Linked DNA regions of Homo sapiens: region 2 is linked to region 1. The links come from fine-mapping of genetic effects on gene expression. Tissue or cell type: whole blood. Region 1 holds a variant in brackets; the other region holds the start of a gene. All regions are shown on one strand. Distances are between the middles of the regions.

What was found. PIP is the estimated chance that this variant, and not a neighbour inherited with it, causes the effect.
Region 2: it holds the start of ITPK1, and the variant in region 1 is fine-mapped to the expression of ITPK1 in whole blood (TOPMed, PIP above 0.99).

The regions. Positions count from the first base shown.
Region 1 is chr14:93,057,288-93,065,287 of GRCh38, reverse strand. The region is part of intron 3 of ITPK1 (inositol-tetrakisphosphate 1-kinase); the gene reads left to right. Among named protein-coding and RNA genes, the nearest start is that of ITPK1-AS1, 6.2 kb to the left of the region's middle. The variant C/T (reference allele first, on the strand shown) is at 3,373.
Region 2 is chr14:93,111,878-93,119,877 of GRCh38, reverse strand. ITPK1 (inositol-tetrakisphosphate 1-kinase) reads left to right here and starts at 3,953. Exons shown (of 11, transcript NM_014216.6): 1 at 3,953-4,106; 2 at 4,573-4,809. The coding sequence starts at 4,715.

The DNA.
Region 1 (8,000 bases):
AGGATCTCTTCTGTTTGATTTATTTTCATGAGTAAAAAAGCCAGAAATGTCTGTAGCATAAGTTATGTCTGTTTGGTTTGGCTAAAGCAGGGCTGACCAGGGATGAGTCTCCTGCTGTGAGTGAGTGAGGTCCCAGCTTGTCCTCTGGGGTTAGAGCAGATTTTGCTCTGGCTGGGGTGCATTTGGGGGCATGGGCTGATTTATGTTTTCCTTCTTTCTGGATCTCCCCAGGTCTAGCCATGATGGGGTGAAGGCATCACCCCCAGGGAGTGCTGACCCCTGACCCTAGCCCCATGACCCCCTCCCGTGCTAGTTCATTATGGGCAGGGGAGGTCCCAGGGATTCCCCGCACACTCATCGTGACTTTTCCAAAAGCTGTGTAAATCCAGAGTTGTAACTTGGCTCTGTCTTTCTCCTTCCCCTTGATCCACCCTCAGCTCAAGAACTCCCCTGGGAAGCACAGTGGCTCCCGTCTTTGCCTCAAGTTCTCTGATGTTCTGCACAAATGGTAGGCAGAGACAGCCCTTTCAGGGACCTGATTGCCCTGGTGTCTAGTTCTCCTTTCACAGGCCTGTTTTCCAGCTCGACTGTCAATCTGAGTCTTTCTCTTTTTGAGCTTTATGCAATGGCCTTAGAGTATACCCTATAAGGAGATCCCGGCTTGCTGGTGCCCGGCCCTGCAGCTGTGTCCCAGAAACTTGGCGGTGGTGCATGGGGCTCACTCAGCACTTCTACAGAAGCCGCCTGGGGTGGCTCCCAGGGTTCCGGTGGGAATGGGGTACAGAGGCCTGAGAGGGGGCTTTGATCAGGTGTCCTGGGGGAACATTTAGAGCTCCTGGATTCTCTGCAGGAAGGCCACCAGCAGCCAGGCATGATGGCCTGTGTCTGTAATCCCAACACTTTGAGAGGCCAAGGCAGGAGAATTGCTTGAAGCCTGGAGTTCAAGACCAGCCTGGGCGACATAGTGAGACCCCATCTCTACGAAAATTTTAATTTTTATTTTTTGAGATGGAGTCTCGCTCTGTCGCCCAGGCTGGAGTGCAGTGGCGCGACCTCGGCTCACTGCAAGCTCTGCCTCCCACGTTCACGCCATTCTTCTGCCTCAGCCTCCCAAGTAGCTGGGACTACAGGTGCCCGCCACCACGCCCGGCTAATTTTTTGTATTTTTGGTAGAGACAGGGTTTCACCATGTTAGCCAGGATGGTCTCAATCTCCTGACCTCGTGATCCACCCACCTTGGCCTCCCAAAGTGCTGGGATTACAGGTGTGAGCCACCATGCCCGGCCAATTTTTTTTTTTTAAAGGTCACCAGCCCTGTTGTCTGGGCAGTAAGCACCTAGTAGGATTGCTTCAGAGTTCTAGAATGCGCATGTAAAAATTCCAAAGTGCGTTTGGCGTCTGGGCTGGGCTTCTATGAGCAGCCCAGGCAGCAGCAGTGAGAACTCCTGTGTGTGCCTCGTCTACTGAGTGCCAGGGTTAGTGCCCCACTTGCCAGGTGAGAGGACTGAGGCTCACACAGGTGGGCTTGTCACAGCCTAGCATGTGAGCTGTGGAGCTGGGATTGGATTCTAGAGGTGTGATGGCATAGCCAGTGCCTCTTCTGCTCCGAAGACTGCCTGCCTGGTGAGAGTCCAGTGACTCCTCCCTAGTTCCAGCTCCATCCCTCCAAGGCTGTGCAGTCCTGGGTAGTGGCACAACCTCTCTGAGGCCCATCTACCAGATGGTGATGAGATGGATGATTGAGACGAGGGGAGGGCAAGTGAGAAGGCCTTCTAAAACTCAGGCCCTCGTAGGAGAAGCGTGGGTAGCCTGAGGTCAGGGACAGGGCTTAGTGTGCTGTGTGGGGCTGTGGGGAGTGGGAAGCTCACTGGTTTTCTGGCTCCTGAGATGACTCGAGGGGTCTTGTGAAGCTCACACCCCTGTCTCACTGGGCAGGAGTTTGGCCTCCACTGTGGGTCTCTGCCATCTCAGGTGGGTGGGGGACCAGGGGTCCCTGGGCAGGAGGGTGTGGGTCCTGGCTTGGAGGCAGACCTTGGCTCACTCCCTTCCTTGCCCAGGCAGTATTTTTGCCGCAGGCCCTGCCAAGTAGAAATAAGTTATTTACAGTGTTTTGACAGGATCATCGGCAGCCGGGATGGGCAAGGATGCCTTTGGGACTGAGCTAATGGCCAAGGAGTGGGGCTTGGAGAAGGGTCTGGCGTGGGAGAGAGATGGGAGATGGGGGTGGGGTGGGGGCGCACATTTACTGAACTTGTTAAATCTTGACAAATGCCAGGCCTGGCCCTCCCTTAAGCCAGGGCTTTGGGGCCTGGTGAGGGCAGGACTTGATGAGTTTTCCTGTCGACCAAATATTCCGCCGGATCGCTCAGGACCCTCGGTTATTTTTGCTGTCTGAGCCCTCAGTGCCTTCCTTTGTCCATCAGGGACAAGGACCCCTGCCCACCCAGTATATCTTCTTGGGGAGAAGATGAAACGCCTTGGTGTATGGTAGGCCAGGCCCTGGCCTTGACTGTGAGCCTGGCAGCCCCTGCAGCCCCTCACACTGGGCCACCATTGACCTGCTTTACGACTTCAAATAGCACAGACCTGCCGTGGGACCAGGGCCTCCTGCTAGTGCCTGACCTCTGTCCTGCATGATGTTCTGACCCTCCAGAAGCAGGTTTGAAAGTGCCTTTCAGGAAGGTCTGGAGAGCCTCCTGTGTAGCTTGTGGGAACAAAATGTGTTACTCCCTAGCCGAAGGATAACCAGCACACTAAAATGTGAATAAAGTGTGACTTTATTCATGTCCTTTGAGCATAAAAATGGCACACACACTGATGCATTAAAAAAACTTTTTTTTTTAATTAAACTTTTTTTAGAGATGGGGTTTTGCTCTGTCACTCAGGCTGGAGTGTAGTGGTGCGATCATAGCTTGCTGCAGCTTTGAACTCCTGGGCTCAAGCAATCCTCCCACCTCAGCCTTCTTAGTAGCTGGGACCATGGTGTGCACCAACATCTTTGATGCAGTTTTTTTTTTGAGATGGAATCTCGCTCTGTCGCCCAGGCTGGAGTGCAATGGCTCGATCTTGGCTCGCTGCAACCTCCGCCTCCCAGGTTCAAGCGATTTTCCTGTCTCAGACCCCAGAGTAACTGAGATTACAGGCACGCGCCACCATGCCTGGCTAATTTTTGTATTTTTAGTAGTGATGGGGTTTCACCGTGTTGGCCAGGGTGGTCTTGAACTCCTGACCTCAAGTGATCTGCCCGCCTCGGCTTCTAAAAGTGTTGGGATTACAGGCGCGAGCCACCAGCCTTGACATAGTTGTAAACAAAGTTGTGGTTCTGTTGTAATCTGTTCCCACAAACACACTTAGCATTCTCTTAGAGCTTCC[C/T]CCTTTGTTAAATGTCTACTTAGGCTTGCTTTTTAAATGACTGCATAATATTATCTGATTGTAACTGAAGTTCTTTGATTCCCTTGGTTGATGCTGACCATGGTTCTGGTCTGTCACCTTTATAAATAGTATTGTGATAAACATCCACTTTTGATACTGTTTGGGCAAGCCTGTGATGATTATTTCTTTGGGTTACATAAGTAAGTTGTATATATTGTTTTTGTAGTCTGTAGGAGGAATATGTACTTCTTGGTGAAATAAACAAACCCCTGCATTTTGGGGAATTACAGAAAGGGAAGGTCTTGTGGGAGTTTGTGCTTCTAGATTTGAATGCTGTGTTATCACCTGTGCACCAGGCACGCATACAGCAACTCATTTCTCTCTCATGTGCCCTCCCTCCCCTCCTTTCTCACTCCTGCCCCAGACCCACTCTCTCTGCCCATGAGGCTGGGGGCTGTAGCCTAGCCGCAGCTGTGCCCATGGACTTTTCTCCCCTTGCAATTGTTCCTCACCCCAGGGAGAGGAGGAAGGAGTGGTGGGCTCTGGAGGAGGTGGGTGGTCCCCGGGTGGCCTCTGGTCTTGCTTCTTCCCAGCACCGAGGGTGCTTCAGCCTCCTTGCCTGGAAAAAGGGGTTGTCGTAACACCAACCTCTAAGGTTAAGAAGGGTAATTGAGATACAGTGTCAAAGTACTTATCACACAGCCTGGCCCCAGATCTGTGTTGAGGAATCTGCAGCTAGTGGTGGAGGGTTAGGAGTCATTTGGGGAATTGCAGTCCGGAAAGTTAATTTCTGAAGAGTATCAAACACCAGCTTGCATGTTAAGTTGTCTTTTGGAGTGATCCCTCCAGTGATTCCCTAGTGGTATGGAGCCAGTCCAGATTTGGAGTGGAACTTTTGTTGTGGGTGTGGGTCACTGTTCCAGGGAACCCCAGCTACCTGACCTTGAACCAAAATCCTTGTCATTGTGGAGCCTGTGTCCCCCTCTGCCTTGGACTTTTTTACTTTTATCTTCCTAGTTCTCATAATAGCTCTGTGAGATGGGATCTATTTATTATTCTCCCTATTTTGCAGATGAGGAAACTGAGGCTCAGATCTGTCACCTGCTTCTGTGATATTTCTAGTCACAGAGCTCCAAGCACCAATCACTCTGGGTCTTTGAACTCAGATCTGCTGTTGCCTATGGCCTAGGCTCTTTCTACTCTGACTCTTCCATCCCCTGCCCCTTCCCCAGTGCTAACCAGACCTCTCTGGTTCCTCATAAAAACCTCCCGTGGCCTTCCTGAATTTTCCAAGGCTACCACACAATCAGCCCCCTAATACCTTGCAAGCATGGGCCTTTTGCAGCAGAGCAGGGTCCCCTCCATTCCTGAGCTTGTTTCACTGTCCCCATGCTGATACTCGCCTGTTCCAGACTGTGTACCCTCAGCCTGGCCTCTCTCCTGGTCAGGGTGCATGCCTGGCCCACGTAGCCTGGTGGTTCTGTGCTCGTCTCTGTGGCTCAAATTTGCTCCCTGTCTTCTGACCCTGTATGTGTGGTGACCCAGAACGTGTTCCTCTTCATATTAGCCAGGGAGCTTGCAGGAAGCAGAGCTCACCCTCAGTGGTTCAAAGAGAGCCTTGAAAGCAGGGGCTGTTTGTTGAGCTGTGGGCAGGGTTAAGGGAGCAGCGGGGGCTGGTGAGGCACCTAGAGCCTGGCAGCAGAGAGGAGCTGTTCTGCTTCTTGGGCCGCAGGTAAGGTGAAGAAAGTGTCGCAGAAGCTCTGTGATGGTAGTCATAGCAAGCCACAGCCACTGCCCAGGCATGTCACTGAAGCAGGGAGAGAGAGGGGACTAAATACCCCACCCCCCTCCTCCTGCCCTCTGGTCTCCTGCCAGTGACCCCTCTTGGCCAAGTGCAACTGGAAGCCCTGGATCTTGAATGCTGCGTTCTACGGCAGTCAGCCTCCCAGGCTCAGAGCCAGGCAGTGTGGATGGGGGTGAGCAGGGAGTGACCAGCACCCCCCACCCCTGCCTCATGACCTGCACCCCCTCCACCCCTGCCTCGTGACTTGCACCCCCTCCACTCCTGCTTCGGGACCCTCACCCCCTCCACCCCTGCCTCGGGACCCCCACCCCCTCCACCCCTGCCTCGTGACCAGCACCCCCTCCACCCCTGCCTCGTGACCCGCACCCCCTCCACCCCTGCCTCGTGACCCGCACCCCCTCCACCCCTGCCTCGTGACCCGCACCCCCTCCACCCCTGCCTCGTGACCGTGACCCACACCCTCTCCACCCCTGCCTCGTGACCCGCACCCCCTCCACCCCTGCCTCGTGACCCGCACCCCCTCCACCCCTGCCTTGTGACCTGCACCCCCTCCACCCCTGCCTCATGACCAGCACCCTCCCCACCCCTGCCTTGTGACCAGCACCTGCGCCCACCTTGAGACCCGCACCCCCTCCACCCCTGCCTCGTGACCTGCACTCCCTCCGTCCCTGCCTCGGGATCAGCACCCGCCCCCGCCTCGAGACCCATACCACCTCCACCCCTGTCTCGTGACCCACACCCCCCTCCACCCCTGCCTTGTGACCCGCACCCCCTCCCCCCTGCTTAGGACCCGCACCCCCTCCACCCCTGCTTCGTCACCCATACTCCCTCCACCCCTGCCTCATGACCAGCACCCATCCCCGCCTCGAGACCCACACACCCTCCACCCCTGCCTCGAGACCCACACCCCCCTCCACCCCTGCCTCATGATCTGCACCCCCTCCACCCCTGCCTCGTGACCCACACCCCCTCCACCCTTGCCTTGTGACCTGCACCCCCTCCACCCCTGCCTCACGACCTGCACCCCCTCCACCCCCCTCGTGACCAGCACCCGCCCCTGCCTCGAGACCCGCACCCCCTCCACCCCTGCTTCATGATCCGCACCCCCTCCACCCCGCCTCGTGACCCGCACCCCCTCCACCCCTGCCTTATGATCCGCACCCCCTCCACCCCTGCCTCGTGACCCGCACCCCCTCCACCCCGCCTCGTGACCTGCACCCCCTCCACCCCTGCCTCACGACCTGCACCCCCTCCACCCCGCCTTGTGACCCGTACCCCCTCCACCCCACCTTGTGACCAGCACCCGCCCCCGCCTCAAGACCCGCACCCCCTCCACCCTCCCTCGTAACCCGCACCCCGTTCACCCTTGCCTCATGATCCGCACCCCCTCCACCCCTGCCTCGTGACCTGCACCCCCTCCACCCCACCTCATAACCCGCACCCCCTCCACCCCTGCCTCACGACCTGCACCCCCTCCACCCCTGCCTCGTGACCCGCACCCCCTCCACCCTGCCTCGTGACCAGCACCCACCCCCGCCTTGTAACCCGCACCGCTTCCACCCCGCCTCGTGACTCACACCCCCTCCACCCCGCCTCGTGACCCGCACCCCCTCCACCCTGCCTCGTGACCCGCACCCCCTCCACCCCGCCTCGTGACCCGCACCCCCTCAACCCCTGCCTCGTGACCCGCACCCCCTCCACCCCTGTGTTGCGACCTACACCCCCTCCACCCCTGCCTTATGACCCTGTGGACCTCAAGGCAGAGCAGCAATGTGTCCCGTGGCCTCTGTGAGAGCGGACCCAGTTCTTCTGTCCCTACCCAGAGTCCCGCATGGCCACTCTGGCTTCGACCTTCCAGACTGGCCCTCCCAGATGCCCCTGTGGCCATCACCCCATGGCTCATTTCTGTCATCAATTTATGATTGATCCTTTAAGGGAGCTGATGGGCTTGCAGGCCCAGGGCCCTAACAGGGGCTCAGCCCTTCATTCCTTCTGTTGCTGGGTGCTCACCCAGGCCCCAGTGGCAGGTCCCCTGCTGCCCTCTAGGGACTCTAAGATGACCAAGTCTTTGACCTCTTCTGCGTCAGTAGCTCAGGGAGACAGACAACCATGGGGCCGCCTGGGAAGATCGGGCCAGGGAGCTGGGGAGGGCTCTCGCCGAGCTGATGGGTTTCTCCCACCTGTCAGTAGGTAGCCCCTTGAGAGACAGCATGTGGTGATGCCAGAATCGTGGGTCATGATCCTTTTTCTCTCCATCAAGGTGCCTAGCGCCACCAAGCATGGTGAGAATGACCAGGAGGGTGCCTGGTGGGTGAGCCCTGAGTCGTGTGGCCCCCATGGGAGAGCATGAAGCCACGGCTGCCTGTGCTGCAGGCTGGGGCCGCAGGAGACTGGGGTCCCTGCTGGTTCTGCCTCTCCTCCCTGCATGGCCTCGGCCGGGCTCTGCTTCTTTCTCTGTCTGACAGCTGATAGGATCTCATGGGTCCCGTTTCACTCTCACCTTCTGTAAATCCCTGATTCTTCAGAAAACGGGGCTAGAAAATCTCCCAGGTGTACTCGCACGTCTGTTTCCTTTCTTAGCCTTTCATCTTGAAGTCAGCTTGGTGAGGTTGCCCTGTTCATACTGCAGAATCCAGGGATCTGAGGCCTCTCGCCCCCTGGGCAGCAAGTGAGTAGGAGTGAGCAAGTGTGTGTGAGTGAGTGAATGTGTGAGTGAGTGTGCATGTGGGAGAATTTGTCGATCTGCTTGAAGCAGGCTCTTTGGGTGCTGTTTCAGCAGGACAGATTTCGAGAGAACACAGCTAGCTCTCCACGTTGGACCTCG
Region 2 (8,000 bases), 55 kb before region 1:
GGCAAACGAGGGTTGCAGGTTTATTTATTTATTTATTTGAGATGTGGTCTCATAGTATTGCCCAGGATGGCCTGAAACTCCTGGGCTCAAGAAATCCTCCTGCTGCAGCCTCCTGAGTAGCTGGGACTACAGGTGTGCCGCCATTCCCAGCCTTTTAAATTTTTATTTATTAGACATGAGGTCTCGCTATGTTGCCCAGGCTGGAGTGTGGAGGCTATTCATAGGTATGATAATCGTGCACTACAGCCTCGAACTCCTGGGCTCAAGCGATCGTCCCATCTCAGCCTCCCAAGTAGTTGGTACTACAGGTGTGCACCACCCCACCTGGCTGTATTTTCAACTCCTGTCATGGAGCAAGGTTTACCTTATGAAGTAAGATAGAGGATCTGAGGCCTCGATAGGCTAAGTGGCCTACAAGGTCACATAGCAAGTGAGTGGTCGAGTTGAGAGCTAGAGACAGAGGACATTTGTGTTCACCTTGGAAGTCCCAGTGAGGACGAGCCTTACCTAGCTCCAACTCAGAAGGCCAGAAGGAAGAATGGTTTGGGGGAGGCTGTAATCAGGGGAAGGATGCAGGGCCCTGGGGTGAGCCCTAAATAAGGGGCTTCCTGTGAGCCTGAGGATGGCCATGCCCTTGTATATACTTTGTCCTCCAGGCAAGTTCTCTGCTGGCCCTTTAAATCTTCTCAACAGCTCTGGGTGGGGCATCTATCCCCACTTTACAGATGAAGATACCAAAAGAACTTCATCCAGGCCAGGCATGGTGGCTCATGCCTGTAATCCCAGCACTTTGGGAGGTCGAGGCAGGCAGATCACTTGAGGTCAGGAGTTTGAGACCAGCCTGGTTAACACGGTGAAACCCCATCTCTACTAAAAATACAAAAAATTAGCCGGGCGTGGTGGCGGGCGCCTGTAGTCCCAGCTACTCAGGAGGCTGAGGCAGGAGAATGGCATGAACCCGGGAGGTGGAGCTTGCAGTGAGCCGAGATTGCGCCACTGCACTCCAGTCTGGGCAACAAAGCAAGACTCCGTCTCAAAAAAAAAAAAAAATACAAAAATTAGCTGGGCGTGGTGACACGTGCCAATAGTCCCAGCTACCGGGAGGTCAAGGCAGGAGAATCGCTTGAACCCGGGAGGTGCACTGGACTCCAGCCTGGATGACACAACAAGACTCCATTTCAAAAAATAAAATAAAATAAAATAATAAAATAAGATAAAATAAAATAATATTAAGAAAAAAAAAGAACTTCATCCAGCTCCTGTTCAGAAGTGACCACACACACACTGTCTTCAGCATCCCTCCCAAGTTCCCCTGGTCCATTTCTCAGGCCTCATCTTCCTGCCCATCTCCATCTTACCGTGCCCTTATTTACGGTGTTCTTCCCTTTTCACCCTCTGAAACTTCGCACCTGTTTTCGCCTTTGCCTGGAATGTTGCCTCCTTCCCCCACTGAACTCCTTCCTACTCATCCTTCAAGATCCTATGCCACAGTCTCCCCAGTCATGCAGCAAAATGGGACAGATTGCCATCTTCCTTCCCATTTCCCTCTCAGCTCTCACCCCACGTTTCCTTTTTTCTTTCTTTTTTTTGTTTTTGAGATGGAGTTTTGCCCTTGCCGCCCAGGCTGGAGTGCAATGGCGCGACCTCGGCTGACCGCAACCTCCGCCTCTCTGGTTCAAGCGATTCTCCTGCCTCAGCCTCCCAAGTAGCTGGGATTACAGGCATGCGCCACCATGCCCACCTAATTTTGTATTTTTAGTAGAGATGGGGTTTCTCCATGTTGGTCAGGCTGGCCTCGAACTCCTGATCTCAGGTGATCCGCCTGCTTCGGCCTCCCAGCGCCCAGCCTCATCCCGTGTTTCTAATCAATGGCTTGTGTCCATTTTCCTCTGCCACACACTGGGCTCTCGTGTGTTTGCCAAAGGAGTGAGGGAATTCCAGGAACCCTCCTGAACCACCCAGCCTCAACTGGTCTTTCAGTTCCTAAGAACAGCAGGACATTTAAAGTCGATGCCTGTAATCCCTACTGCTGACTTCAAGTATCAAGTTTATAGTTGCTGCCCCCATCCCCTTCGTTTTTACTCCCTTAGCCGCCTTCTTTTTTTTTTTTTTTTTTTGAGACGGAGTCTCACTCTGTTGCCCAGGCTAGAGTGCAGTGGCACGATCTCAGCTCACTGCCAGCTCTGCCTCCCAGGTTCACGCCATTCTCCTGCCTTAGCCTCCCAAGTAGCTGGGACTACAGGCGCCCGCCACCACGCCCGGCTAATTTTTTGTATTTTTAGTAGAGACAGGGTTTCACCGTGTTAGCCAGGATGATCTCAATCTCCTGACCTCATGATGTGCCCACCTCGGCCTCCCAAAGTGCTGGGATTACAGGCATGAGCCACCATGCGCAGCCTCCCTTAGCCTTCTTTTATCCATCTTGTGCCTCGGCCCTAGGGGTCCTTGCTATGATCTTCCCTTTATCCAGCTTTCCATGTCCCCCCCAGGAGCCAGGCATTCTAAGCCACAGAGCTGACCCTGGAACCTGTCACCACTTACCTTCTAGGCTCCCATGGCCTATGAAACTCGCAGTACCCTTGCCTAAGGCATGCAGTGCCCGTCCCTAGCTGGCCCCCTGGAGGAGTCCTGTTTCCCACCCATCGTCTTTTCCACTCTCCATCCATCCGTTTTCTCTACCTTGTTAAAGAAAAAAACTAATCAGATTCTCGTTAAAGATGGCAGGGAAGCCAGGCGGGGTGGCTCAGGTCTACAATCCCAGCACTTTGGGAGGCCCAGGTGGGAGGACAGCTTGAGGCCAGGAGTTCGAGACCTGCCTGGGCAACACAGTGTAGTCCCAGCTGCTCGGGAGGCTGAGGTGGGAGGATCAGTTTAGCAGGGGTGTTCGAGGCTGCAGTGAGCTATGACTGCACCATTGCACTCCAGCCTGGGCAGCATAGAGAGATCCTTGTCTTTCTTTTTTTTTTGAGACGGAGTTTCTTAATGTAGGCCGGCCAGGGTGATCACATACCAAGCGTGGAGATATTCTTGACAGCAGGATTCTGGCTAAAACTGGACTAAGAAGGCCAAGGACAGAGCCCAAGGTCGGGGCCTGGTCAGAAAGAGGTCTCGGAGGAGCCTGACTCAAGTGTGATCAAGGGAAGTCTTGGTCACCCGCTGGCAACTTGGCTTTTTCTTGTCTCCCAGCCTCAATTCAAGCTCATCCCCCTTCCCTGCTCCATCAAAATCTCCTTGATTTCCAAGGCCAGCTTCAGTGTCTCCTCTCAAACTTTTCTGAGCCTTCCCTCCACGGGAATCCATTTTTCCTGCCTGGGCCTGGGGAGAGAAGTCCATTTCTCCTTCCCAAACCCAGAGACCATTGAGGCAGGAAAGCTCCCTGGCTGCCCCATAGGGCAGGGCAGGGTAGGCGGGGTTTAGTGACTCCCCGGCGCCGACGCTGACCCGCACCCCTGAGGAAGGGGTCTCCGGGGACGGCCGCTGTTGTCGCTGTCGCCTCCAGTCCCCGCCCCTTCCCCCCTCAGTGAAGGGGACCTAGAGTGAGAACTGGTGGTCACGTCCTACGCCTAGGAGGGCCCCTGGGTGTTCACCCACCCCCCCGGGGGGCCCCATCCTGGGCCAGGGTCCGCTTCCTCGAGGGAAGGGGCGAATTCCTGGAAGGTCTCCTTCCGGGCGCAGTTGCAATGGATTGCCTTGGGGGTGCTGAACCCTGCTGGGGGTACAGAGACGTTTCCGAAACTCAGCGGCTCGGTCGCCCCCAAAGGCCAGGCGGAACACACGCCCACACCGCGGCTCCCTTCCCGAAGTAAGACCGCCGGGCCACGGCCGCCCCCAGGAAGCCCCGCGCCCCGCACCCCACACCCGGGGACACAAACAGGCGCCGGGTAGCCGCGAGGGCCGGCGCGGCGCCTTTAAGAGGCGGCGGGCGGCGCTGCCCCCTGGCGGCCGCCCCGCCGCTTCCTCGCCGCCGCGGGCTCAAGCGGGGCGGCCGGGCCAGCGCGGGGCGGCGGCGGGCAGGGGCGGCGAGTGCGCGGGCGCTCGCCGCCGCCCTTCTCGGCGGGCAGCGCGCGAGGACCAGGCCGAGGAGGAAGTGGCGGCGGCGGCGGCGGGTGAGGATCTCTGGCCGGGCCGAGTGGCCGCGTGCGCCCCGCCGGGGTCCAAGCGCGCCCAGGGGTTACGGCCCGGCTGGGAACATCAGAGGGCGAGGACCCGGGCGGGAGGAGGAGGGAGGAAGGGCTCGGAGGCCGCGCTTCTGCCGCCGCCTGAGGGCGTGTGGCTCGGGCCCGCGCGGCGGGAGGGCGGGCAGGGCGGGGGCGGTGTCTGCGGAGGCCCGGCTTCCCCTCCTGCGGGCCCTGGCCCCAGCTCCGACTCAGACTCAGGCTCAGCCGTGCCCCAGCCTCAGCCGGCAGGCCGGGCGGCGCGGCGCTCGCGAGCCGGTGGGCGGGCGGGCGAGCCCGCAGGCGGCGGGGGCGTGGGCGGTGGCAGCTTGGCCCAGCCAGTGGCCTTCCGCGCTGAGCGCCGCTCCCTCCTCCCGGCCGCCCGCCGCGCCCCGCCCCGCTCCGCTCCGCGCGGCAGGACTGCGCGCCCCAGCTCCGATCCCCGTTCCGCGTCCCCGCCGCCGGGAGGAGGTGCCCACTCGCTCGCGGCGCGCGCCGGCCGCCAGACTCGGCCTGTGGGCGATTTCCTCCGGACCCAGGCTCCCCGCCCGAGGAGGAAGATGCAGACCTTTCTGAAAGGGAAGAGAGTTGGCTACTGGCTGAGCGAGAAGAAAATCAAGAAGCTGAATTTCCAGGCCTTCGCCGAGCTGTGCAGGTAAGGAGGGACGCGGCGCCGGCGCCCGGGGACCCCCGGCCCGAGCCCGGTGACCCCCGGCCCGAGCCCGGTGCAGCCTCATTAGTTGTTTTGGGAGATCGGAGCCAAACGGGAAGAAGCGGCGCGCGGGGAGACTGAGTCCGAGCAGCCAGGTGGCGGTGGCGGCCGCCGGCCGCGTTCCAGGGAAGCGGTGGCCGGTGCGGGCGAGGTGGCACGGACCGGGGCGTTCAGGTGCACTGTGACCCGGCTGGGGAGGCCCCCAGCAGCCCAGGGCGCGGTGGGAGTTCTACTGAGGGTTGCGGAGGGACCTGGGAAATCGGGGCATCCACGCTGTGGGGTAAGGGCTTGAGGGTACTTTTGGACCGGAGTGTTTTTCTTCCTTCGTCCCCTTCCCTTTCATGAAGAAAGGGCACCCACGTTTGTGGACCACCTACTATGTGCCCCGCGTGTGCTCGGCTCTTGAGGCTGTCATTGCATATCATGAGGTTAAGCCCAGTTGAAGCGAGTAGCAATTCTTGGCATGTATGTGGTGATTTGCTGTCTCATTAGAGCCTCGCAGCAGCCCTGCAAATTGGCCAGGGTGGTGATTCTGGGCCACCTGTCTGAGAACGGGGACCGATCGGCAGAGGAGCGGGGTACCTAGCTTGGGGTCCCGCAGCTAGGGAGTGGCTGGTGCGTAGAAAGTGCTGGGTAAATGCCCGTGGTGTGGAGTGGCCTTCTGCCATCTGGGCTGTGTGCCCCTGCTCCCACCATGCTGGTGCTCCTTGGCGGAGTCTCCGGTGTTTAACAGATCACGTTCTTAATAAATTACAGAACTACTGAGTCTTGGGTCAGGTAGGCCTTCCCTTGCTCCACAACTGTAGCTTTGCCTCTGAGAAGCAGTTAAGCCCTTTTCTCAATGCAAGCCTAAGAGAATCTAGCTCTGAAAGCCTTTTGCAAACTCCAGGTGGAAACCTTTTGTGATGCAGCTTGTTAGACTGATTTTTGAAAATGGGCTCTACTTGCATTTTTGTCCCTGTGGGGGCCCCACACATCTTGGAGAATTGAACAGTTGGGTTTCCGTAACCCCTGGTGCTCCTGGGGGCCCGTGGCTGGTCTGAGCTGGCATGCGCAGGTGAGCCTGGCAGCACCTCTGTGTGCCTCATGCCTTTCCCAAGGGCCTGCTGCTCCTTTGCCCCGTGCAAGCCCCGCAGGCGCTCTTCCTGCAGCCAGAGGGGCACAGCTTGTACAGGATAGTGCCTGGTTCTTTATCCCTTGGTCTGGGGATGGGGTTGGCTGCCTTCTCCCAGGCCGGTTTCCCTAGAAGACAGGCTCTTCATGATCAATAGGGCATGCAGAGTGGCCCCAGCAATTCATGAAGAAATCAGGAGGAGCTCGAAGCCAGAGCTTTGAAAATGAGTCTTAGGACCCTTGGAACATTACAAAAGGGTACTTGAACGTTGTACCGCGGATACACTCACTTGTGGGAAGGGCATTCTAAGACACTAAAGAAATTTGGAGCAGCTGCTTTGGCATGTTCTCGAAGTCCAGTTCTGATGTGAGGCACCGGAGCTCCCCCTGCAGTCATGTAAGACTTGGGAAATCCCAGCGAATACCTCGCACCCTTTGTACTGCTGTCTGTATTTATGTCATCTTGTGTCTGCAACTCAAGCTTGAGGCTTGTCATTGGGTTGGCTTGTTTTGCTTGGTAATTAGGAGGCTCTCGCAAAATATTCTTCGCCGAGACTCACAACTAGGTCCTCGTGCTGGACCTGCAGATTGGCTTGACCTTGTAGACATTCTTCCTTTAAAGGGGTGGGAGGTTCAGAGCAAGCTATGCTATCAACGTTCTGGGGAGTAGAGCATTACTTTCTCTGAAAGAGTTGTTGTCTTCAAAGTCTAGTTGCCTTCCTTTGGCCAAAATATTGGCTTCAAAGAAGGCAGAAGTCATCAGGGCCATTCTAGAACCCGAGGAAGCCCACTTTGTGTTTTCACTAGGGAAGCTTTAGATATTTTATCACTTAAGCCTAAGAAGGAAAAGAAAACACCAAAGAGTTTTTCCGTTTCTTATTTATTACTTTCAGGGCAGTGCCCCCTGGTGGCCACATTTCTATACTGGCTGCAAAATGCTGCAACTGTTGAGCCAGTGACCAGGGAGCCCCGTGAGGTTGTTTTGTTTGGTGTGAGGGCCAATGAGACTTTAGTGGCTGAGAGACAGTGCAAAGGACATTATCATGTTTTCCACATTCAGAATCTGGGGGCGCAGGGCTTCTGTACTGACGACGGGTGATGAATTGTCTATGAATTCCCTAATGAAAAAGTCTAAAGGTATTTGAAAATGGCCCTGCTTTGGGCCGGGTGCCGTGTCTTCTGTCTGTAATCCCAGCACTTTGGGAGTCCAAGGTGGGTGGGTCACGAGGTCAGGAGATCGAGACCATCCTGGCTAACATGGTGAAACCCCATCTCTACTAAAAATACAAAAATTAGCCGGGCATGATGGCAGGCGCCTGTAGTCCCAGCTACTCAGGAGGCTGAGGCAGGAGAATCACTTGAACCCGGGAGGCAGAGGTTGCAGTAAGTCGAGATGGTGCCACTGCACTCTAGCTTGGGTGACAGAGCGAGACTCCATCTCAAAAAAAAAAAAAAAAAAAATGGCCCTGCTCTTAATGTTTGGGCAAAGAATGACCCGAATGGTCCGGCCCGGGGTGGGTTGTTTAGCTGAATGTCCGGCCTTGTAAAAATCTGATCTCAGAGCAGGAAGAGATGTTGGCCATCATCTCATCTAGCCCCTTTGTCTTACAGATGGGGAAACCCATCAAGAGAGGGGGCAGGTTCCGGACTCTTGGTCTTTTCCTTTAACTTCTAGAATGGGTCCAACCTGGCTACCTTGAGATTGCCTTTCTGATTGGGCATCTCCGACAATAAGGCAGTCTCCCTCATTATCTTTCCAGGGGTCTGGTGGCTGCTATTTAGCCCCCAGGACACATTCCTTGCAAAGCTGAGCCCCTCTGCAAGTGTAATCCTTGTCTTGGGGGGAGGGTTTGGGGGGTAGTGCACGTTGATGGCAACAGTGGGTGGTTAGAGCCACTTCATGGGCCATGAAGTGCCCCACCTGCCGTAGGTAGGGACAGGCGCCAGCCTTTTCAGATGTGCACTCTGATAGGATGGGGCTCTGCTAGCCAGCAGATGGGCCTTTGAATCCACTTGTTTGT